7 linked regions of the Homo sapiens genome follow. The protein of the gene in region 3 purifies or fractionates together with the protein of the main gene of each other region. This does not show direct contact. Each region holds a gene or a part of one and is shown on either strand. Other genes may lie near its edges. The genes, in order: RAB11FIP2, NVL, CLCN2, BPIFB1, PSME3IP1, DMBT1 and MUC13.

Region 1 (3,500 bases), on a different chromosome or scaffold from region 3:
GAGTTCCAGATTTTATCTGATATTTGAAAACAATGTAAACCTTCTAATTTTAGGCATGAGATTCTTAAATTGACTGATATACTCCACATATATATATATATTTCTGTTTGTTGATATAACTCCAAATAAAATAATGATTAAGTAATATAAACAATAGAAAATTAAAACATATGCTCATTACAAAAATTATTTTTTTAGAGAGGAAAACTCTCAGGTAAATATAAAAATTATTTTTTCGAAAGATTATTCTTGCAAAAACTTGCAAAATTCATAACTCTCTAAACTGGCAAAGACCAAATGCAACTTACAATGGTTACTCCAAAGTGCTCAATATTTTTTCTTACAGTACTCCATACAGACAGCACTTATGTTTTTAAGATGTTTTCTTATTTTGAAATTTAATGTAAATTTTTCTTCTCTCTTCCCCTTTTACAACCAACCTTTTCTCATTTCTACTCCACCTCTGTTAAAAATGTCCATATGCAGACATAGAAGATGTGGACTGGTAAGAAAATATTAGAATTACTACATGAAGTTTTCTAACCCAGAATTTTAAATAATACAGTTTTGCATAAGATTTTGAGAACTGCTAGTGATCTATTTTTGCTTTACACAGTCTAGCCTTTTAAACTAGGAAATGTACATTTTTTACAATATTTAAATTTAAACAAAAGCAAATTATCAAGACTCAAAATAACTGAAGATTTAAAGAAAGGTTGTCCTGGTAACCAAATATTGGTGGGGTACTAACTGACATCCAAGGCAACTAGAGGAGAGAGAGAAAAAAAAATGAAGGCTTGGCATTCTCTGATCATCTCATTATTGTTCTAATGAGGAACTTTGCTCTGGGAATATCATCTCAGCTACTTTCACATCTTTTGTCCTACTCCCTTCATCTCCCTTTCAGTTCTTAATTAGGCCTTAAAGAGCTCACACTGCCCTTTCAACTGGCTACTGCTCCTGTTTAAACACTGTGCTTTCACAGACAGGTGTTGGCACTAGCATATAAGACATACAAACTTAATTACAAAATACTATGTCCAGAGGGAGAAAAAATAACTTGGTGGATGGCTATTATTGGAGAACTTAATGTAAATTACTTCAAACATCTTATAATCTTCAACATAAAAATTGTTCGAATGCTTTTCTTCAATCATGATCAGTACGAAGATGCGCTTCCTCCTCTTAATTGTATCTTGCAGTAAATTAACAACACCTAGTAATCCTTTAACTGTCATTTAGAATAGTTAGTATTCCAGAGAAAAATAATCACACATCAAGGATTCTTTTATCACCTTTAAATCCTTTAACTAAAACAATTTTCACATTTTATTTCTTTAAAGAATTCTAAGGATGCTTCTACAGCAATAAATTACAAGATTTGGAAAAGTACATTTACAAGCAATCGAAATTGTAATTAAGGTTACTTAATAAACAATAGCTACACATTAAATCGATTTTTTTGATGTTGCATTTTGTTTGAGATTAAGTAACCGCCTGATAGAATTCATTTTACTATCTGATCAAAGGCTGACTTCATATTTTCTCACATTTCTCGCCAGACTGCCATATTATAAAGACTTGAGAATTTATAAAACATCAAAACTTACGAATCGTTTAAATAAAACAGCAAAAACACAGTACAAAGTCCTGTGCTTCTGTAACAGTTTCCACAATTTTAAAGATAAACAACTGCATTTAGAATGGTTTAGAAAATAAACCCTAAACCCACCTTAGCTTCTTCTAGCCATGTCACATCCTAAAAAATAGTGATATGTGATATGGGATTGCCTAAAAAAATTCTTACTATACATCTGGATCGCACACATCAAGGACAGATGGTTGAAACAGCAACCACCAGTGTCTTGGAATAAAGCCTCTATTTCTGTTATTCAGTGAGAATTTAGTTTTCTACCAAGAACGTTTGCCCATATTTTGGCAAAGTAATTTATTCTCTACGTTTAATATAGTTAGAATTGATTGCAGATGCAATGGAACTCTGAACAGAGATTAAATACTGGACTTCAAATACTACAATAAAGTTCAGATTATCTGAATAATCCTTGCAAAATACGTGAGTTGATTTAGGTGGTCGCTACCAATCCTGTTAACATATTTGGTTTTGTTCTGACGAGAAAGATAAGTGTCCTAAAGTATTTGTTCTTTCAAATACTTTCCTGGTTATCTGGCTCTCCTGCCAGGATGCTTTTCTATTGTTGAATGTTAACAAGCAGCTTTATTCTTTCTTCAATCCTTGTCCCAACAACAACAAAAAATAGTCTTTTCTACGTGCTCTTATTTCATAACCACAAATTTGACCCTGACATACAGCTTGCATATTAATTTCAAAAGTCTGTAAACAAAATATGTATATTCTAAATTGGCTTCAATTATAACCAATTTTGCTTGAACTTTCATAGATCATACGAGTCACACCCTATTGTATATTAAAGGCAAAGATTGTATTTTACTTTCTTTCTTTCTCCTAAAATTACTACGCTAAGCTACAATTCTTAGGTAAGTGAGGCAGAAGGCAAGAAGACAAAGGCATTTTTAGAAATGTGTGCCAGAGAAAAAGACCAGCTTACTCTTTGACAACCCTCTAACCCCTTCAGCAACTTACCGGGATTTTCCTGAGGTCTTCATTGCTTGTTGGACTCATATGAAAACTAATAAAACACAAACAAATGTTAAAAGTGTCATAACTCATGTGGGAGGAAACATAAAAATAGAAAAATTTTAACCAACATTGTAATACAAATTTCTAAAGCCCTACATTATTCAGAGGAGTGAAATTTAATCCAAGAAGTAGAAAAAAATCCAGTATTTCCCCAACATTCTTAAAGCATCATTACAATTTCAAACTTTGAAGGAAAACTTTTTAGTTATCAGAACTGAAGAATGAAATAGGAAGTTTCTAAACAACTTTAAACATAGCACTTTTATCCAGCAAGATATTTTGCAAAACTAATTTGTGTGAGAGATTTCCCATTATATTTACACACAGTCACTCACCTTAGGCCCTCTGATATAAAACTAGGGAGAATTAAGTAAATTTAGGTTGGAAAGATTATAGAATAAAAGAGTTAAAGCAATCTGTTTAAAAATGCCATAAGTGTTAGAAAACTCAGCTTTCAAACATTACCCTATCAATAAGAATAAATTCAGAATTGTGGGAAACATTTCTCTCGTTAATGTGATTTCTAAGTAGCTAGTCTTGAAAATTTAAATACTGAAACGAATCAAAACAACACAGATTTCTCCCATGCAGAGAAGAAAACATCACAGCTGAATGCTATAACTATTTTCTTCTTTGAAACATGTCCATTAGATGGGACTGCAACCAAAAGACGCTAAACTTCAAAGCCATCTGATGAGTAAATATTTCATCGGTGCTATTCAAGTTTAATTTTTACCCAGCACTTAAAGGTATTAGCCTTTAAAACCTTCACAAAGCATTAGTGTCCTAAGAACCTTTTTATTCCATGCACAAAACAACA
Region 2 (3,500 bases), on a different chromosome or scaffold from region 3:
CCCCATATGCACTCAAATAATAACATTAAAGACACTGTCAAATGTGAAGGATGGTGCAAAGCTTTTGAGATGGCCCCAAAGCATCACATAACACAATACACAGATTTTATATTTTGAAAGGAAAGTCTCAACATATGGAAAGTTATTCCAAATTTCACTTCTCTTGTGTATTTTCTAAGCTCTCCAATTTAGGCTGCATTTTAACAGGCAAGTAGATATCACCTTAGCAAAAGAATACGTTTTTCCAGAATTGATAAGCAGCCCAGACTCATGATGAAGACAGCGAATGGATCCATTTGCCTATAGGGACAGTACTCTTTATTAGAGAGGTACTAAATAACTTTGCTATTATTATAATTGTCAGCAACAGAGGTTACCTAATATTTCAGAACAGCTTCTAACAGTCTTATTAGAAAAACGTTAGCTTTAATATCATAGATAATAGACACTAGAAAATGGTCATTTTCCAGGGCAACAGTGGTTTTAAGTATCATAATTAGAATTGAGAGATTCTGGAGAGAATTGTACCTTTTTCATTTCCACTCTTCTGTCTTGCCATTTCCTGTCTCAGGGCACAGATAGAAGCTTCTCGTACCAAAGCAGAGAGATCTGCGCCCCTACAATAAAATAATAGTTATCTACTTATTCTTAGATACTGCAAAATCCCAGAAAAAAACCCGGAAAACAGTTTTCATATAAGTCATATATTAAATAATCAGGAGAAAAAGTGACCAATAAAGATGAGAAATAAATTGATTATCAATCAATAGAAAAGAGCTCTTAGCTTTTATATAAGATATTTCTAGGCCAGGTGCAGTGGCTCACGCCTATAATCCCAGCACTTTGGGAGGCCGAGGTGGGTGGATCACTTGAACAGGAGTTTGAGACTAGTCTCAGCAATATGGAGAAATGCCATATCTACAAAACTACAAAAAAATTAGCTGGGCATGGTGGCATGCACCTGTAGTCCCAGGCACTGGGGAGGCTTAGGTGGGAGGATCACTTGAGCCCGGGAGGTGGCGGTTGCAATGAGCCAAGATCGCACCACTGCACTCCAGCCTGGGTAACAGAGTGAGACTCTGTCCCAATTAAAAAACAAAAACAAAAAAAAACTAAACTCAAGAAGAAAGGAAATTATGGAGGAAACAATACAATGCATAAAGGGCTAAAGTGCTGACTAGCATATTCATGTATTACATAATGTCTAAAGTAAGCTTATTAAAAAGTCATTTATGGGCTGGGCGCAGTGGGTCATGCCTGTAATTCCAGCACTTTGGGAGGCTGAGATGGCAGAATTGCTTGAGCCTGGGGGGCAAAGGCTATAGTGAGCCTGGGTGACAGAGTGAGACCCTGTCTCAAGAAAACCCCCCAAAAAGTCACTTGTGGCTCCAAGTTCAGAAGGGAAAAATACAAACCCTGGAAAGTCTTTAATGCACCTGATTCAAGTTAAAACTGAATGAACACATCATAAGTTACTTAAAATATGACAAATACAAAACAGGCCTTCACTTATTTAATTAGTTCATGTAATAATATGCTGAGTCAGCACAGTTCTGAGTTCAATGAAAGACACTCATGTTGACTGGAGTTTCACTACATTACAGCTGTAACAGGGTTCTTAGAGATTATATGAGAAAGAGTTTGAGTTTGGGGATAAAAACATCACTTCTATGATTCACAAGTCTTGGAAAGAAAAGATGAAAATGAAAAATAAATTTTTTTAAAAAACCTCATCTCTGGACATTAAACTTATTATATAATGTTGATAATCCCCATACTATATAACTTTTTTTTTTTTGAGATGGAGTCTTGCTCTGTCACCGAGGCTGGAGTGCAGTGGTGTGATCTTGGCTCACCGCAACCTCTGCGTCCTGGGTATGAGTGATTCTCCTGCCTCAGACACATACTATATAAAAGTAAAGACCCACAGAGCTTAAATTTTTAACTGAATCTGGTGTTTTGTTGGCTAAATGTTAGGGTTATAACATTATTTAATAATCACATACCTGCTGGGGTATTCATTCCTTCCCATACTATGAAATCTAACATTGGTGGAAACACCATTAACTAACACAAGCAGATAGCTATAGACTGTAGTGGTGTAGTGTCTCTCAAACTGTAATTATAGTGGCATGAAAATCCAAAATGTACACCATTCAACTTTAGCCCTAACCCCTTCACAGACTGATAGCCTACTTGGTATATCCAAAAGATTTAGCCCAGGGCAAGTTCCGCCACCAAAATCACCTGTTACTCACCGAAAATCTTTTCAGATTTGAGCACTTAAAGCTGTATTATTATTATTTTTTTTGTAGAGATGGGGTCTTACTATGTTGCCCAAGCTGGTCTTGAACTCCTGGCCTCAAACAATCTGCCTGCCTTGGCCTCCCAAAGGGCTAGGATTACAGGTGTGAGCCACTGCTCCCACCCTTAAAGCAGTAAACTACTCAAGTAGTAGTCTCCTAAGCATAAGGCCATTTCTTTATTTTTAATTTTATTTATTTTTATTTTTTGAGATGGAGTGTCGCTCTGTTGCCCAGCCTGGAGTGCAGTGACACGATCTCAGCTCACTGCAACCTCCACCCGCTGGGTTCAAGCAATTTTCCTGTCTCAGCCTCCCTAGTAGCTGCGATTACAGGTGTGCACTACCATGCCCGGCTAATTTTTGTAGTTTTAGTAGAGACAAGGTTTCACCATGTTGGCCAGGTTGGTCTCAAATTTCTGACCTCAAGTGATCTGCCCACCTCAGCCTCCAAAGTGCTGGGATTACAGGCGTGAGCCACTGTGCCTGGCCACATCATTTAAATAAAGACTCGTATGGATTTGATTCCTAATTAGGGGGTGAGGCACATCCTATTTAAGGGGAGGTAGAGGCATTTACATCTGCCCCTCACCACCCCTGCCTGAGACTCTGATCAGTTTCTCTTCACTGAGAATCACTGCTACATTGGAAGGACATAATAGAGAAAAAAAAAGGGCCGGGTGTGGTGGCTCACTGTAATCCCAGCACTTTGGGATGCTGAGGCATGAGGGACTACTTAAGCTCAGGAGTTCATGACAAGACTGGGCAATATGGCGAGACCCTAAAACTACAAAAATTTTTTAAAAAAATTAGCTGGGGATGGTAGCATGCACCTGTAGTCCCAGCTATCCAGGAGGCTGAGGTCAGAGGATTGCTTGAGCCCAGGAAGTCAAGGCTACAGTGAGCCATGATCATGCCACTGTACTCCAGCCTGGGTGAAAGAGGGAAACCCTGTATGGAAAAAAAAAAAAGAAAAAAAAGAAAACAAAAAGCCGGAGGGGGCATTGTCTCTGTTAGTTAAACTTGAGTTTCATTTCCTCCCTCTGTGTCCCCAAATTGGGAAAGTTAACAAACAAATTTACTTCAAAACATATGAAGAAAAACTAATAACTGTAACAACACAAACATAGGAAGGATGAAGGCAGAAATGTCAGATTTCCTGATGTTACTACAGGCTATGTGGAGGTGAAAATGCATC
Region 3 (2,961 bases):
TTTCCCAACCCCTCCTAGGATGTGCGGGCAGTGTGCTGGCGCCTCACAGCCAGCCGGGCTGCCCATTCACGCAGAGCTCTCTGAGCGGGAGGTGGAAGAAAGGATGGCTCTGGTTGCCACAGAGCTGGGACTTCATGTTCTTCTAGAGAGGGCCACAAGAGGGCCACAGGGGTGGCCGGGAGTTGTCAGCTGATGCCTGCTGAGAGGCAGGAATTGTGCCAGTGAGTGACAGTCATGAGGGAGTGTCTCTTCTTGGGGAGGAAAGAAGGTAGAGCCTTTCTGTCTGAATGAAAGGCCAAGGCTACAGTACAGGGCCCCACCCCAGCCAGGGTGTTAATGCCCACGTAGTGGAGGCCTCTGGCAGATCCTGCATTCCAAGGTCACTGGACTGTACGTTTTTATGGTTGTGGGAAGGGTGGGTGGCTTTAGAATTAAGGGCCTTGTAGGCTTTGGCAGGTAAGAGGGCCCAAGGTAAGAACGAGAGCCAACGGGCACAAGCATTCTATATATAAGTGGCTCATTAGGTGTTTATTTTGTTCTATTTAAGAATTTGTTTTATTAAATTAATATAAAAATCTTTGTAAATCTCTATATACATCTGGTCATTGGAGGTTCCAGTTATAAACCCATCTTAGTTCCACCCCTTTCCCCTCAAAGGGGGAGCAGGGGTCAAGTGACCCCAACCCATCCTGCCAGGGCAGGGCCTATCTTCCTGCCTCTGGAAGACTTGTTGCAGGTGGGTAGTGGGTCAGATTCCAGGTAGGATGAACTGGGAGAAGCTGGCACCCCAGGTCTGGAGGGGGCTGGGGTGCAGCCTCCAGCTGTAGCTGCCTCCTGCCTTCCGAAGGCAGAAGGAATGAAAGATGCACATTCTGGGCTGACGGGCATGGCTAGCACCATCCTAGGCCACCCACGAGGGGCTCATTGGCATTTGTCGTCGCTGTCGGAAGGGCTGCCCTCCCGGGGGAGGCCATGACGGGAGTGGGGCCCCCAGAGTGCATGCACCTCAGTGGTCTCCGTGTCACTGCTGCTGGTGGCACTGTCTCGGAAGCTGGCGAGGGGCGGCCGGACTTTCACACCCTGTGCTGTGACAGAGCCCTCGATGGCCTTCCGGAGCTGGAAAGGTGAGAGGGACAGATGTCTGGACCCAGATGTCAGACTCCTCCCCGCCTTCCTCCCCAGGTGAGCTGGACATAAGCCTCCATGACTTTTTGGAAGTGGAGCAGCTTTGGAGGCCACCATCACCTCACCTCCTTTAGAGTAACGATTCCAATGAGTCTGCCAATACTGGTGACATAAGCATGGTCCACTCCCAGCAGTGAGAAGATAGTGTGAGTCTGCAGTGTGGGGAGAAAAGCGATTGGACTTGATGGACGAGGGGCAGCTCTAAATGACAGGCCACAGGGGCCCAGGACAAGGTTGGTGTGGAATAGGAGGGGTGCCCCAGATTGGGAGGGAAGGAGACAGGACTGCTGGAGGGAAAATAATAACAATCGTAATAATAATGAGAATGTTTCTGTGTCCAGGCCTCAGGAACTTGATACTCAAAATCCTTATATTGCTTACACTGACGGAGAAATAGGATGGGGGAGTAATTCTTAGTCCCATGTTAGAAAGGGGGACGTGGGACAGAACAACTGTTCACACGTGAAATCTAGTGATTGGCCAGGCTCCGTGCTAGGTCTTACATTATCATTTAATTCCAGTACTGTCCTGAGAACTAAGCATTAGGAGAAGCAGCATGGGGCTCAACAGTGAAGTGACTTGTTCCAGGCGGGTCCTCAGGAGTGGCTGTGCAGCCCCAGTCACTTTTCATCACACCGGAGAGGGACGCACAACCCCAGTCCTGTTTAGTTGCAGATATACCGAGAAGGGAGAGCCCACACCGACCTTAAGGGCACTTGGGCCCTGAATCCTATGCCTCTCGTTCCACTGCTTCTCAGTTGCCCTCCTACCTGGCTGGCCAGGTTTGGAGTCTCTCTCCCCTGCTCTGGCATTCCAGTCTTGGCCTGAAGCACGCTATGCCTCTCATACAGTCTGCCTTTTCTAGGGTCCAAGCAGCATCCCAAGTTCTGTTGAGATGCAGCTTGCAGTCCAGGAGGACAACGGTCACCCCCATCTTCCCATGTTTTTCTTGCTTTAAGCCCTCCCCTAAGCTTTCACATATAATCACCAGGGGTTCAGAAATTGTCAGCCAGTTCTCCTTATGCTTTAAGTAGATTTTCTTGGGGCCAGATGTCTTGAAAAACGCTCTCCTGACTCAGCAGTTCCTGGAATTTTTGGCCTATCATTTATCTCACTGTTCTGAGTTTACTTGTAAGCCTCTTCGCTTAATGTTTGAATCAAGATGAGCAGTAATAACAGCTTCTTGTGTACCAATTACTCAGAACTCACTTAAATTGCCTTAACACTTTTTAAATGTTCTTACACATTTGAAATTCTTTAGGGAGGGATTTCCAGAACTTTCCTAAATTTCTCCACCCATGGCATGACAGTACTTAGAGGGGCAAGAAGTTCAATTTTAGAATAAGCTCTTCTGGGCGCGATGGCTCATGCCTGTAATCCTAGCACTCTGGGAGGCCAAGGCGGGTAGAATGCTTGAGCCCAGGAGTTTGAGACTAGCCTGCAATATGCGAAACCCTGTCTCCACAAAAAGCCAGACATAGTGGTGCATGCCTGCAGTCCCAGCTACTTGGGGGCGCTGAGTTGTGAGGATCACCTGAGCCCAGGAGGCAGAGGCTATAGTGAGCCATGATCGTGCCACTGCACTCCAGCCTGGGTGACAGAGTGAGACGCTGTCGTCTCAAAAAAAAAAAAAAAAAAAAGTTCTTCTGTGTTTCTTGAATACCTATAACACAGTTGTCATGTGGTTAGCGATTCCTTCTGGCTAACTGGAGTCCTACGTGCTACAAGTTAGCTTTAATTTCCTTGTCTGACTTCAGAGGGAAACGCTTTTATTAT
Region 4 (3,158 bases), on a different chromosome or scaffold from region 3:
CCATGTATCTGGAACTGTTCTCTCATTTACTCCTCACCAAAGCCCTCCAAGGCAGAGACAATGACTATCCCCATTTTACGGAGAAGGAAACTGAGGCCCACAGAGGGGAAACTACATCCCAGAGTCAAAGAAGCATTAAGAGGCCAGCCAGAGCTCCAAGCCTAGTTCATCTGCCCCCAGATCCACATTGTTCAGAGAGTCCTCTGTCCACCACACTGCCAAGATAAACAAAACATATGTCCCCCACCCTAAAAGCCATCCCACTGAAGATGGTCTTGAGGCTGACATGAAGGCAGGTGGGAAGAGCTGGCTTTCTGATTCCTGAAGCACAGGGAGGTGGTCAAGACTGTGGACATCATCCACATGTGGCCCAGACATCACCCAGATTGGCTCAGATGTGCCTGAACATGACCCAGGTGTGGCTCAGCCATCCAGTCCCCAAGCCTGCCAGGGGCAAAATGACTCCTGTGCCGGGACAAAGAGACTCCAGACGGCAGGCATCACAGGCAAGTGTTTATTGATTGCAGAGAGGGATGGTCTATAGAGCTCACACCCATACTCCCAGCTGGGACCCAGCCTTCCCTGATGGCTGCCATCCAAGTCTTCACTGGGAGACAGGAGAGCTGGGTTTCCACAAGGAGGCTGGAGTAAGCACAAGGGCATCCTGGAATTGGAGGGGAAAAGTCAGAAAACAGGTTTCTTTAACCTTTTGCCTTGTGGTTTATGCTGGTTTTGTCCTCCATAAGGTGACTGCTGGCACCGGGGGACCATGACCCTGAACCCACAAATACAGAATTCTTAGAAGGGTCGGGGTGGAGGGTCTGTGTGTGAACATTAATGCCACACCAGGTCCTGATGTCATCTCCATTTTGCAGATGGGGACACTGAGACTTGAAGATGGCAAAAGCCCCTTTCCAAAGTCACGCACTCAGTAGGTGGCAGAAGTGGGATTTGCACTTAGCACCCGCCTTGATCACCCCCTGCTTTGGGCCCCTCCTCTGCATGAGCTAATGACAGTAAGGTGTCCATCTCAGTTAGCAGGCATTTACTAAACACCTACTGTGTGCAGCCACTGATCACAACAGAGAACAAAGCAGACAGAAACCCCTGCCTTCTTGAAGTTTTGGCTCCACTCTAGAGGGGGAGAGATGCCCCAGAGCCTGGCACACAGTGACTGTGAGCTGTTCTTCTTAAGGGTAGTATTTGGGAGCGAGGGTGACACTGCCATAGATCCTCTCCCCAGCAGATGCCACGGAGAGTCATTTGCTCACCAAGCATTTATTGAACACCTACTGTGTGCCAGGCCATGCTGAGCACCGGGGACAGAGGCATGGACAAGATGGACATGATCCTGGCCTTGAGCTGAGACCATCTGGCCACATGGTGTGTGTGTGTGTGTGTATGTGTATGTGCATGTGTAGTGTGTGTATGTGTGTATATGTGTATGTGTGCGTCTCTGTGTATGTGTGTGTATGTATGTGTGTATGTGTGTGGTGTGTGTGTAGTGTGTATGTGTGTGGTGTGTGTATTATGTGTGTGTGTATGTGTGTGTGTAGTGTGTATGTGTGTGGTGTGTGTATTATGTGTGTGTGTGTAGTGTGTATGTGTGTGGTGTGTATGTGTGCAATATGTATGTGTGTGTGTATGTATATGTATAGGTGTATAAAGGTGTGTGTGTGTATGTATGTGTATAAAGGTGTATGTGTTTGTATGTGCGTGTGTATGTATGTGTATAGGTGTATAAAGGTGTGTGTGTGTATGTATGTGTATAAAGGTGTATGTGTTTGTATGTGCGTGTGTATGTATGTGTATAGGTGTATAAAGGTGTGTGTGTGTATGTATGTGTATAAAGGTGTATGTGTTTGTATGTGCGTGTGTATGTATGTGTATAGGTGTATAAAGGTGTGCGTGTGTGTGTGTATATGTGTGTGTGCATGCATGCATCTCAGGCCTATGAGGTTACCTGCCTTGGATGTTGCCTCAGATCCTGGGCCTCCTTCCTCATCTTTCCTGGAACACCAACAATCCCTGCCTCAGGGCCTTTGCACTTGACATCTGATATGGTTTAGATCTGTGTCCCCGCCCAAATCTCATGTAGAACCCAATGTTGGAGGTGGGGTCTAAGCTGATTGGATCATGGGGCTGGTTTCTTGTGAATGGTTTAGCGCCATCCTCTTGGTGCTGTTCTCGTGATGGTGAGTGTGCTCTTGTGAGATCTGGTTGTTTAAAAGTGTGTAGCACCTCCCACCCCTTGCTCCTGCTTGGGCCATGTGATGTGCAGTCTTCCCCTTTGCCTTCCGCTATGATTGGAAGTTTCCTGAAGCCTCCCCAGAAGCTGAGCAGATGCCAGCATCGTGTTTCCTGTACAGCCTGCAGAACCACAAGCCAATTAAACCTCTTTTCTTCATGAATTACCCAGTCTCAGGTATTTATTTTCTTTCCTTTTTTTTTTGGGGGGGGGATGGATTTCACTCTTGTTGCCCAGGCTGGAGTGCAATGGCGTGATCTCAGGTCACTGCAACCTCCGCCTCCTGGGTTCAAGCAATTCTTCTGCCTCAGCCTTCCGAGTAGCTGGGATTACAGGTACCCGCCATCACGCCCAGCTAATTTTTGTATTTTTAGTAGAGACTGGGTTTTGCCATGTCGGCCAGGCTGGTCTCGAACTCTTGACCTCAGGTGATCTGCCCACCTTGGCCTCCCAAAGTGCTGGGATTATAGGCACAAGCCACTGAGCCCAGCCTCAGGTATTTCTTTATAGCAGTGTGAGAACGGCCTAATACGCTGTCCCTCTGACGGGACACTTCTCCCAGCTACCCACAGGGCTCACCCCTCACCTCCTCAGGCATTGGCTCAAATGTTACCTCCTCAGAGAGGCCCTCCCTGGCCACCCCATCTGAAACAGCACCCCCTTCCCTGACATCACTCTCTCCTCCTGAGCCTGCTTTATTTTTCTTCTCAGCCTTCCTCCACTCAGCCTGATGTTACATCTTTAGGGCTTGTGTATCTGCCTCTTCTGCTAAAAGGTAGGCTTGAAAAAGATGGGAGTGTTTTCCATTTGTTCATTTCGGTGGCCTCAAGCACTCAGAAGCATGGCTTGCCTATAGAAGACCCTCGAAAAATATTTAGTGAATTACTGAATGAATGAATGAATGAATGAA
Region 5 (3,500 bases), on a different chromosome or scaffold from region 3:
ATTGCTATTCCTAACTTGAAAAATGACTCCATTTAGCTAGTGCCATGACACAAAGTAATGAGATCTGGTTTCCTATGGAATTGAATTATGTGATGGCAAACTACTTGAGTGTTTACATCACTGGCCACCATATCCTTCTAATTCTAAAATTAATTAGATTGTACATGTTAAAACACACCAGAATCAGGTTTCTGTGTTCTGTTGTTTTAAGGCTTCACTTTCAGTAGCAAAAGCAATAGGTCAATCCATTTCCTTTTGTGAGTAAATATAGATTATTGCTTTCCAACATTTTTTACTCTGATGTTCAAGTCACACTGTACTTCAAAATGCAGGACAGCAACTAAGAGGAATTTGCCATCTGGCTAACTCATCTATATTTCAAATAAAGACTTATTTCTGGCCAGAAGGCACTTCTACCAAGATACAGTTATTTAGATTTTTAAAAATTTAGCTGACTTTTCCTATATCATAAAATTTATTTAGAGAACAACAACTACTAACAGAGAGCCCGCTGTTAGTATTTATTACTAGGCAAAGTGAAGTCAATCTTCTAACACCAAAGCTTAATTAACATATTCCGGTAGCAAAGGAGACTAAAAGAATCTAAAAACTAAACCACAGAAAAAGAAATTTAATCCATATTTTAAATGTTTATCATAAGGAGCAATTTGCAATAACCTTTCAGGCATCTATGAAACACATACAATAAAAAATTCAGCTTTGCAATAATCTTTCAGGCATCTATGAAACACATACAATAAGAAATTCAGCCAGGCATGGTGGCTCACACCTGTAATCCTAGCACTTTGGGAGGCTGAGGCAGGAGGATCGCTTGAGGTCAGGAGTTCAAGACCAGCCTGGCCAACAGGGTGAAACCCCATTTCTACTAAAAATACAAAAATTAGCTGGCTGTGGTGACATGTGCCTGTAATGCCAGCTACCTGGGAGGCTGAGGCAGGAGAATCGCTTGAACCCAGGAGGCGAAGGTTGCAGTGAACTGAGATTTCACGCCGCTGCACTCCAGCCTGGGCAATAGAGCAAGACTCCGTCTCAGAAAAAGAAAAAAAAAAAAGAAAAGAAATTAAGGCCTGGTGCACTAGCTCACACCTGCAATCTGAGCACTTTGGGAGGCCAAGGCAGGATTGTTTGAGCCCAGGAGTTCAAGACCTGCCTGGGCAAGATGGTGAGACCCCAACTCTATTAAAAACAAACAAACAAACAAACAGACAAACAGGCTAGGCACAGTGGCTCATGCCTGCAGTCCCAAAGCTGTGGGAGGCCAAGCTGGGAGCATCACTTAAGGCCAGGAATTTAAGACCAGCCTGGGCAACACAGTGAGACTCTCTCTCTACAAAAATATTTAAAAATTAGCCAGGTGTGATGGTGCACTACTTAGGAGGCTGAAGTGGGAGGAAGGCTTCAGCCAAGGAGTTCCAGGCTACAGTGAGCTATGAGGGCCATTGCACTACAGCCTGGGCAACAGCACAAGACCGACCTTGCCTGGCGAGGGGGAAAAAAAAGAAGTTAAAAAAAAAGTATTGATTTATTTATCTTTCCATAGCACAAGGGCAGGGTCTCAAATGTGCATTTATCTTGAATTCACCTATACACACTAGAAGAAAGATAACTAATTTAAATATCGGTTCCCTTAGCTGATCCTCATTCACATGCACCTCTCTGAATATAAATACTTCCCTCACTATGCATGAATGATTGTATTCATTGTATTTTTTACATATTGTGACTCCTAAATACAAACCAACAACTTCATCTGGGGCTCACAGGAAGAAAAACAGCAGTTTTTTCCAAAGCCGAAATAAAACTTGCCTGAGGATATAGAGAAAAAAAAAACCCAAACCAAACCAAAGCATTTTTGCTATTCTCTCACTCAACAATCAACACAGTATAATTCTGTGAGGGATATGTCCCCACACACCAAGCAACCAACCAATTCTGTAGCAGACACCAACCAGCTGGGTGTCCTCTAATTCAGTTCAATTCTGACACTACCTACCTGGATGGAGACCGCGTCAGATCCCATAGGTTGAGGGGTGAGTCCCACAAGACTAGCCTCCATTTTAGATACCAACCACAAGAATCAGGTTGTTTTACCTGTAGTTCTAACCAACTGGCTATTAATCAGGGTTCCCATGACCCCCTCCTTAGGTTCTATTAATTTGCTAGACCAATTCACAGAACTTAGAGGAACTTAGAGGAACACTTTACTTACATATACTGGTTTATTATAAAAGCATATTACAAAGGATACAGATGAAGCAATGCATAGGGCAAGGCATGTGGGAAGGGCACAGAGCTTCCATGCACTCTCTGGGGCACCATCATCCAGGAACCTCTCATGTCCACCTATCCAGAAGCTCCCCAATCCCAGTCTTTTGGATTTTTATGGAAGCTTCATTACTTAGACATGACTAATTAAACCAGTGACGCTGGTGGTCATCAGCTCGTCTGCCTTCTCCTCTCCCCAGAGGTTGGACATTGGTTGAAGGTCCCAACCCTCTAATCCTGCCTGGGTCTTTCAAGTGACCAGCCCCCATGCTAAAGTTACTTAGGGGCTGCCAGCCATCAGTCAGCTCCTTAGCATATAAAAAGACACTAATCATTTTGGAGATTTCAAGGATTATAGGAGTCATATGCCACAGGAGACAGGGATGAAGGCCAAATATGTATTTTACAATATCACACTGGCCATGTCAGAGTTCTGCAACACTGGTATTCCTACAATTAACATGCTGCCTCCCTGAGATTTCAAGGGTAGCTTTGCTTGTAAGCTATTTTGTCATCTAGGCTCGCTTCAGAACCTAACCCACACCTCAAGTCATACTCCATCCTCCCTCCCCCCACCCTATATAACTCCACTTCAAGACCAAATTAAAAACAAAATAAAACAAAAAAACGCAGTCCCAGTTACTCAGGAGGCTGAGACTGGAGGACTGCTTGAGCCTAGGAGTTCAAGGCCAGCCCGGGCAACATAAGGAGATACCCATTTCCCTTAAAAAAAAAAAAAAAAAAAAAAAAACTTTGCATTACAATAACCAGACAAGGCCAACTAAGATTTTTTTTTTTTTTTTTTTTGGCGCAGTGGCTCATGCCTGTAACCCTAGCACTCTGGGAGACTGAGGCAGGTGGATCACCTGAGGTCAGAAGTTCGAGACCAGCCTGACCAACATGGTGAAACTCCGTCTCTACTAAAAATATGAAAATTAGCCAGGCGTAGTAGCACATGCCTGTAATCCCAGCTACTCGGGAGGCTGAGGAAGGAGAGTTGCTTGAACCCGGGAGGCGGAGGTTGTAGTGAGCCGAGATCGCGCCACTGCACTCCAGCCTGCGCGAAGTGGGCGAGACTCCATCTCAAAGAAAAAAGATTTTTGAAGCAAATATTTACCGAGAACCTATTATGTGCAAGATACAATGCTATGTACTAAACAGGCAACTGAGGAACTTACACTCATTCAGTAAAAGACATAAGGTTGGCACACAGC
Region 6 (3,500 bases), on a different chromosome or scaffold from region 3:
ATTTTCACATCTCTCTCCCTCTCTCTCCTCTCTGTTTCTCGTGACCTTCCCAGTAAACAGTGAGGTGAGGAAAGCAGGTATTTTATTCCCCTCTTTTGACTGAGGCTCAGGAAAGTTGAGTGACTTCCTGTGGTCACACAGCAAATTGGTGAAAGACCTAGGACTTGAAACCAGAGCTTTTGTCCACTCCAAGGCTCTCGTGCCCCCTCCCCAACTCTCCACGGGATGCCTCTGGGCTAGGTCAAAAATGTCTCTCAGCAAACTTCTCTCCTGGCTTTCTAAGCACCATTTATTCCCTCTTGAAAGGTCTGTGGGGCCCCAAGGCATTCTTCTGGGCGCACACTTAAGCACCATTTATTCCCTCTTGAAAGGTCTGTGGGGCCCCAAGGCATTCTTCTGGGCGCACACTTACTGGACATCTCTGAAGATCACAGTCACACGGTAGTTGTTTTGCACCTCAATGTCCCACACACACTTGGCATTGTTTGGATAGTTCCCGGGATAGAATGGGCTGGAAAAGTCCCCTGATGGTTGGGATAGGAAGCCTCCGCAGGAATAATCTGCTGTCAGGACAAAAAGTGGGAATGTCGGTGACCCCCAGAGCACACTGCACAGTCTACCTGCGGACTACTTTAAATTTAAATTACTTTAAAATTTTATAAAATAATTCCCAAGACAGAAACCAAGTAAGAGCAAGAGGTGGCCTAGATCTGGACCGTCCACTGAGGGCTGGCAGGGCACTCTTGCAGGGAGACCACTTTGGGGGAAGCCATCTCCTCCCCAGCCCCATTGTCACTGAGGAAATGGGAAGGGGAATTTCCAGGCCACTCTGCCACAGACTTGTCAGGGAGCTCAGAACTTACTGTTTGGACGGGTGATGTTGAGAAAAGGAGCTGTTGACAAAAAGAAAAGATCAGGATCAGTTTTCTGGCATCCCTGACACAGCTGTCGACTGCTCATGAGCTGTGCAGATGCTGTGCCAAGCCTGAGTCCACAGGGAGGAGCTGGACACAGGCCTTGCCCTTGGGGAGCTCACTTGCCTTTGGGGAGGTCTGGAGGAGAGCGAATCCCAGCACACTGGGAAAAGGATGAGATTGACCAAAGCCTGGGGAAGGAGAGGAGCCTGGAAGTCTGGCCCCTGCCCCAGATGGAGTGGGGAAAAAAGGGCAGTAATTAGGGGGCAGGCAAAGAGGTAGAAACGGGGTGTCCCAGGCAGAGGAACAGCAGGTGCAACTGCACCTGGGTGGAATAGATTTGGGAACCTCCGTGTAGATGGAGCAGGCAGAGGATGGGGAGAGGGCACCAAGCATAGGGAGCAGATCATGGGGAGCCCTGGCAGTCATGCTGTGCTGAGGAGCGGGGTCATCACCAGAAGACCCTGAGGAATCTCTTGAAGGGGCTGCACAGTGGAGAATGGATGGGAGGGCACAGGCCTGAAGCTGCTGCTATGGGAGGCCAGGAGGGGATGACAAAGCAAGCAGGGGGCGGGGCAGTGGGGGGTGTTGGAGAGGTGCCAGGGCCATGCTGGGAACACTCAGAGCAGCTCAGGGGCAGGCAGGGAGGAGCTCTGCGATGCAGTGGGCCCCATTTGGCCAACACTGGTCAGGGTCTGGTGTCTGTGAGGACAGTCAAATCTGACAGGTGGCGGGCCTCACCTCGGGACTGACTGGAGATCCTAATCTTAGGTGGGTCAGGCCACTGAAGCACAGAGAGGGGCACACTATCCTGGTGGCCGGCAGGGGAGGGGACAGGGGCTGTAGAGGATGGTACCACAGATGAACTCCTTGGAGAGTGAGCAACATGCCCTGCACAGTCTAGGCAGCAGTAATGGAGAGACCTGGAGACCAGGGAAGTGGAATGGAAATCGGAGGGACTTACCAGGTGTCGATAGATGGTTTCCTGAAAAAGGAATAGAAAAAAAGCATAGGTCACAGACATGTGGCTTGGAGGAGGGGCCGGAATGAGACAGAGATACACTTACATGGCCCATAACCTGACCCCCCTCGGCGAGGGTCCCCAGGTCCACCCAGCAATTGCTATTGAGAAGCCTTCCCAGCTTCCCCAGATGCTCCCTAAGTCCCGTCATACTTGTGGTCATCAGGATTACAGCTGAGGTCATAACACCCATCACTCTCTCCTTGACCATGATTGTTCTAAAACCATCCCAATTGTCACCAGTAGCAAGTACTATCATAGCCACCCCGACTCAACAGTCAAGGAAACTGAAGCATAAAGAAGTAAAATCATTGCTGGAGGTCCTTTAGTCAGATGAGTGTTCAGCATAATGGCCCTGGGTCCAGAAACTGGCCAAAGATAAAGCAGCCCCCTGCATGCTCTTCTGGAGTGCGCAGGCCACGAGGACACAATGACCAGCTCCTGCCTGGGCCACAGACACCATCAGCCACTGGCCTTAAGCTCTTGCTTTATAGCAAGTTACAGGTGAAATGGGCCTTCCATGGCATTGGGCCATACCTGAGCAGATGACACCAGCATCTTCACGATGATTACAGTTGTGGGAGAACCAGCCTCGGTTCCGGCACTGCCAGAGAGTGGATTCCGTCCCTGAGCACTCTACATCGTCCAGGGTGATGGGGCCAGAGCCAGAGCCAAAATATGCATTTCCAAGGGCTGAAACTGCACGTCCACACCCTAGCTGTCTGCAGACCACCTCAGCTTCCTGAATGGTCCAGGAGTCATCACAAACTGTCCCCCAGGTGCCACCATGGTAAATTTCTACACGCCCGGCACATAGACCATAGGATGAATTTAAATTGACCAACCTCAAGGTGGCATCTGAAAGACACATTAACTGAGAGATCATGGCCATGTCCCACAACAAATGTCCCACAACAAACCTCAAAGGCCAAGCATCCCACAGGCCTTTTCCCACCTCTAAAGTCGCCAAATAGAAATGTGGAAAAGCTGGGGTGGAGGTACTGGACCGCTCCATGCAGAGCTGAAAGGGGCTCTAGACATCGCCAAGCTCAGATCCCCTCACCTCCAGACGGAGAGGGGTGGCTCTGAAGGAGAGTCACCAGGTCCCCTGGAGAGTTGGTGGCAGACCCAAGGCCAGGTGGAACCCCCAGTCTGCACCCTTTGCTGCCTTCCCAAGGGCCTGCCCACACAGTCAGTGCCAAGAGAAAGAGAATGGGCCGTGCATCGCTGAGGCCCTTCTTTGATTTCCTTGGGGAACCATGGTGCCCCCAAAGAGGCAGCTGGGTAAATCCACCAAGCCTCATAGGCATGGTCTAGTGTGCACTTACCGCTTGGGAAGGAGTTATACCAAGCCAAAAAGCCAGTGTTTTGGAAACTGATGTCACTTCGAAAGTGAATGGTCATTCGGTTGTAAGAAGATGTAAATATTTGCCTGGTATCATTACAGATTTTCCCCAGCAGGAGACTGCTATTCAATGATCCATCAAAGATTTCAACATAATCAAAACTGCAGTTATGGTGTGCCTCCAATCTGTATGGAGAAAATGTATTCAAGTCAACATTGA
Region 7 (3,500 bases), about 59 Mb from region 3:
AGATTCTCCTGCCTCAGCCTCCTGAGTAGCTGGGATTACAGGCGCCTGCCACCACGCCTGGCTAAATTTTTGTATTTTTAGTAGAGATGGGGTGTCACCATGTTGGCTAGGCTGGTTTCAAACTCCTGACCTCAAGTAATCTGCCCGCCTCATCCTCCCAAAGTGCTAGGATTACGGACATGAGCCACCATGCCCAGCCTCCACCTCAACTTCTAAGACATATTTAAGGCTAATATTTTTTCCTTTAAAACTGAACTTTGAGCTGTATTGGCTGGACATGCTCTGAGGGTCCTTCCAGAGCTAACATCTGTGGCTGCAGAATGGAAAGACCCTTTCCTTTCATGCTTGCTCACATGTGTGCACTTGCTCACAATAATCTAAATGATGGGAAACTATTGTTCATGCCAACATTTTTGAAAATGGGAAAAATAAGTAACAGATATTCAGATGTAATTCTTCTTCTAGACATTTTTTTAAAAGCCAGACTAGTATGAAAATTTATGCAAATTTGAATATAAAAAAGAAAAACAACATCTTTAAATTTTTTCTCTTTCATTCTGTGGAAATAATTTATTTTAAAACTTCATGATATTTATCTGTCCATTTAAAACTGTGTTAATAGCTTATAAAACAATGGGTATGGTATGGCTGGAGCCAGCTTCTGCAGGCCCTCTGCCATGCCAGGCCAGGTGCCACGCCTCCAGGTGCAAGACCATGGGGTGGTCCAAGGGTCCCAGGGGAGAGGCCTGGGCAATGAAGAAGTGGTGGCACCGGTGGAGGCGCTCAGGACAGCTGCTGTTTACCGACCAGTAAAGGTACATTTCACTGTTTGAACAACTGGTACGATGGTACGAGCGTGAACCACCTGAAGACCAGCTCTACACTCTGCAACTCAGTGTTAGAACAAAGAATGCTTTACAGAAAGGAAAGTTGGAAAATACTTACCAAGCTAGTAATTTCACTATGCAAGTCTTGATAGGCCATGGAATGTTTCTCTTCTGGGTCAAATGTTTCTGATACTGTCACTGAAATCTTCCCAGGGAATACCTTTCCTGAAAGTTAAGCAGAATCTTTCTGTACTATTTGATGAAAAGAGGGTCATTTCCATTTTGTTTTAAAACATAGATTATTTTTTAGAATTCCCAACATTATATAACGACACTACAGGAAATCTGGAAATATTTTAAAAGTTACCCATCATCCTGCCCAACCTAGCACAACCATTTTAATTTTGGTATATTTCTTTCCATTTACAGTTTACATTGTTGTAATTCCAAGTTTATGCCATATTTTTTTTCTTCTTATTATATAATAGGTATTTTCCAAATCGTTGCCTAGTCTTTTTTTTTTTTTTTTTTTTTGAGAGAGAGAGACAGATAGGGTCTTGCTCTATCACCCAGGCTGGAGTGCAGTGGCACAACTGGGTCACTGCAGGCTTGAACTCCTGGGCTCAAGTGATCCTCCTGCCTTGGCCTCCCAAAGTGCTGGGATTACAGGTGTGAGCTCCTATGCCTGGTCTCATAACCATCATTTTTAAAGGTTGCATAATATTCTGTGAAGTACATGTCCCCTTCCTTGATGTAATCATTTTTTGTTATTGGACTTAGTGCTTTTAATTATTTAAAAGGAAAAGAAAAAGTTGCAATGAACATCTTCACACACAAACTGTTCTTCTGTATTTGGGGTCACTTACTTAGAGTAAATCCCCAGGAGTGAGATTATTAGTGCTAAAAATATGAGCATTTGGGGGCCTTTTGGTATATCCCTAACCCCAGTGGGCAATGCAATGCATTCATTTCTTATAGAATTGGCTGCTCTGGAAAATGAAGATATTTCTCATTCATAAAACAGAAAAAAAAAAAAAACAGAACTCAGACAGTCAGCCCTCAGACCTTCACTGCACCCTGGTGATCTAATCAAAACATCATTATGCCACAAGTGTATAAATGTACTCCTGAAATCCATTTTTAGAGCTGAAGGGCTCTTATGTCTCTAAGAGGGGGATCTGATGTTATGGAGCAAACAAATCTTGTGACACAGAACTGAAGATCAGGCTCCCAGGGTTGCTGGACTGTGTGGTCTTTGATAGATCACCTTGTTCTGCCTCAGTGTCCCTAGGTAACAGCACTTTTCTCTACTTTGCTGGCCTTTGTTGCCTCTGCATTTTCTTTATCTCTCATATTTTGGAATCTCCTTTTGCCATCATTTTGAGTTTTCGATTCCACTTTTGGTGTGAGATACAGAGCTCAGCCATGGCTCATCCCTTGTAACTCACCTTTCTTACATGTAGAAGAGTTGTAGTAATACCCTTCTAAACACAGGCAAAAACTTGTATTATGCAGCTTAACACATAACGAATTATCTGCACAGGGATCATCTTGGCAAGGATTGCTGGGACCTTAGATGGAGTAGAAAGAGATTAGAAATCCAGAGAAATGACAATAAATAACAACTGGAAACGTATTTTTCCATCTTCATGCCTCCCCCCTGGGCCCTTTCCATTCCTTGCTTGTGTTACTCCACAGCACACTTTTGGAAGAGTTAAAAACAAATATTTGCTTGCTTAGGTCTCTAGAGAGTTTGTTTCTGAAATTCTAGAGCCAAGTATAATACTTGTCAATAGTAAAGATCAGAGATTAGTGTACAAGGGCTTGCCCAAAGAAAGAGAGATTGCAGTCTTCTGACTCCAAGGAGTCAGGAATCTTCAGATCTCAAAGTCCCTCCAGAACCTTGAAGCATGGTCCTCTAACACTAGGTGGGGCTCCCCAAAACATTCTAGATAAAACATCTTATTTTTAGAAAGGTATGAATAATTGTCATATAGGAAGAAACAGCCAAGAAGCTCCAAAAGAAACTAGATGTCACATTCTGTTAGGCATACCTAGGAGACATAGCCATAAAAACAGGAATGGGATAGTAAAGGAGAGAAATGTGGATTAACTCAGTGAAAATTCTAAGAGGCCATGAGAAGACATTCCAGCCTCTGGCTTTCTAAGTGGATCATCTGAATAAATGGTGAAAATAACACTGCAATGGGTTCTACACTGTGGGCTGAGACTCCCAGGCCAGGCAGGGTGTAGCATCTTTCTTTCTCTGGGGAACTGATGAGATCTGAGGAGGAGAGTTAGCTCAGTGGTCCAGTGGTGATCTGGGCTATGAGTTTTCTTCACTTCTGTCAAGTGGAATGATTCTGAGCTGTGATGTCAGAATAGCTTATGTGTTTGATAACCTTCAGAGCTGTCTTGAGAGTCTTACAAACCTATATGTAGAAACCACTGATTTCTTTAAAAGCTGTATGTAAGGTACAATGTGTATAACATGCTCTCTTTTGTGAATAAAAGAAGGGAAGGATTATACACAAGCAAATATTTGCTTATATTTGCATAGGTAATTTCAGGAGGGAGATACAAGGAATTGGGCACAGAAGTTGCCTCTGGGGAAGGAAACTGGGGGTCTGGGTCCTGGGGGTTTAGGATGAGAGGGAGATTTATTTTTTATTG

The links.
Region 1: the proteins of CLCN2 (region 3) and RAB11FIP2 purify together in Homo sapiens (affinity purification with mass spectrometry; one large-scale study listed by BioGRID and IntAct). This does not show direct contact.
Region 2: the proteins of CLCN2 (region 3) and NVL purify together in Homo sapiens (affinity purification with mass spectrometry; one large-scale study listed by BioGRID and IntAct). This does not show direct contact.
Region 4: the proteins of CLCN2 (region 3) and BPIFB1 purify together in Homo sapiens (affinity purification with mass spectrometry; one large-scale study listed by BioGRID and IntAct). This does not show direct contact.
Region 5: the proteins of CLCN2 (region 3) and PSME3IP1 purify together in Homo sapiens (affinity purification with mass spectrometry; one large-scale study listed by BioGRID and IntAct). This does not show direct contact.
Region 6: the proteins of CLCN2 (region 3) and DMBT1 purify together in Homo sapiens (affinity purification with mass spectrometry; one large-scale study listed by BioGRID and IntAct). This does not show direct contact.
Region 7: the proteins of CLCN2 (region 3) and MUC13 purify together in Homo sapiens (affinity purification with mass spectrometry; one large-scale study listed by BioGRID and IntAct). This does not show direct contact.

The regions. Positions count from the first base shown.
Region 1 is NC_000010.11:118,012,442-118,015,941, forward strand, and holds part of RAB11FIP2 (rab11 family-interacting protein 2), read right to left. Parts: intron 2,670-3,500; coding exon 2,624-2,669; intron 1-2,623. UniProt on the Homo sapiens protein: A Rab11 effector binding preferentially phosphatidylinositol 3,4,5-trisphosphate (PtdInsP3) and phosphatidic acid (PA) and acting in the regulation of the transport of vesicles from the endosomal recycling compartment (ERC) to the plasma membrane.
Region 2 is NC_000001.11:224,232,673-224,236,172, forward strand, and holds part of NVL (nuclear valosin-containing protein-like), read right to left. Parts: intron 618-3,500; coding exon 529-617; intron 301-528; coding exon of another isoform or gene 269-300; exon of another isoform or gene 1-268. UniProt on the Homo sapiens protein: Participates in the assembly of the telomerase holoenzyme and effecting of telomerase activity via its interaction with TERT. Involved in both early and late stages of the pre-rRNA processing pathways.
Region 3 is NC_000003.12:184,345,685-184,348,645, forward strand, and holds the end of CLCN2 (chloride channel protein 2), read right to left. Parts: exon of another isoform or gene 1,679-2,961; intron 1,338-1,678; coding exon 1,251-1,337; intron 1,117-1,250; coding exon 922-1,116; 3' UTR 501-921; downstream 1-500. UniProt on the Homo sapiens protein: Voltage-gated and osmosensitive chloride channel. Forms a homodimeric channel where each subunit has its own ion conduction pathway.
Region 4 is NC_000020.11:33,307,214-33,310,371, reverse strand, and holds the end of BPIFB1 (BPI fold-containing family B member 1 precursor), read right to left. Parts: intron 665-3,158; coding exon 605-664; 3' UTR 501-604; downstream 1-500. UniProt on the Homo sapiens protein: May play a role in innate immunity in mouth, nose and lungs. Binds bacterial lipopolysaccharide (LPS) and modulates the cellular responses to LPS.
Region 5 is NC_000016.10:57,179,540-57,183,039, forward strand, and holds part of PSME3IP1 (PSME3-interacting protein), read right to left. Parts: intron 3,012-3,500; exon of another isoform or gene 2,078-3,011; coding exon of another isoform or gene 2,015-2,077; intron 1-2,014. UniProt on the Homo sapiens protein: Promotes the association of the proteasome activator complex subunit PSME3 with the 20S proteasome and regulates its activity.
Region 6 is NC_000010.11:122,630,254-122,633,753, reverse strand, and holds part of DMBT1 (scavenger receptor cysteine-rich domain-containing protein DMBT1 isoform e precursor), read right to left. Parts: intron 3,467-3,500; coding exon 3,264-3,466; intron 2,794-3,263; coding exon 2,473-2,793; intron 1,900-2,472; coding exon 1,879-1,899; intron 894-1,878; coding exon 864-893; intron 564-863; coding exon 413-563; intron 1-412.
Region 7 is NC_000003.12:124,921,252-124,924,751, forward strand, and holds part of MUC13 (mucin-13 precursor), read right to left. Parts: intron 2,399-3,500; coding exon 2,276-2,398; intron 1,053-2,275; coding exon 946-1,052; intron 1-945. UniProt on the Homo sapiens protein: Epithelial and hemopoietic transmembrane mucin that may play a role in cell signaling.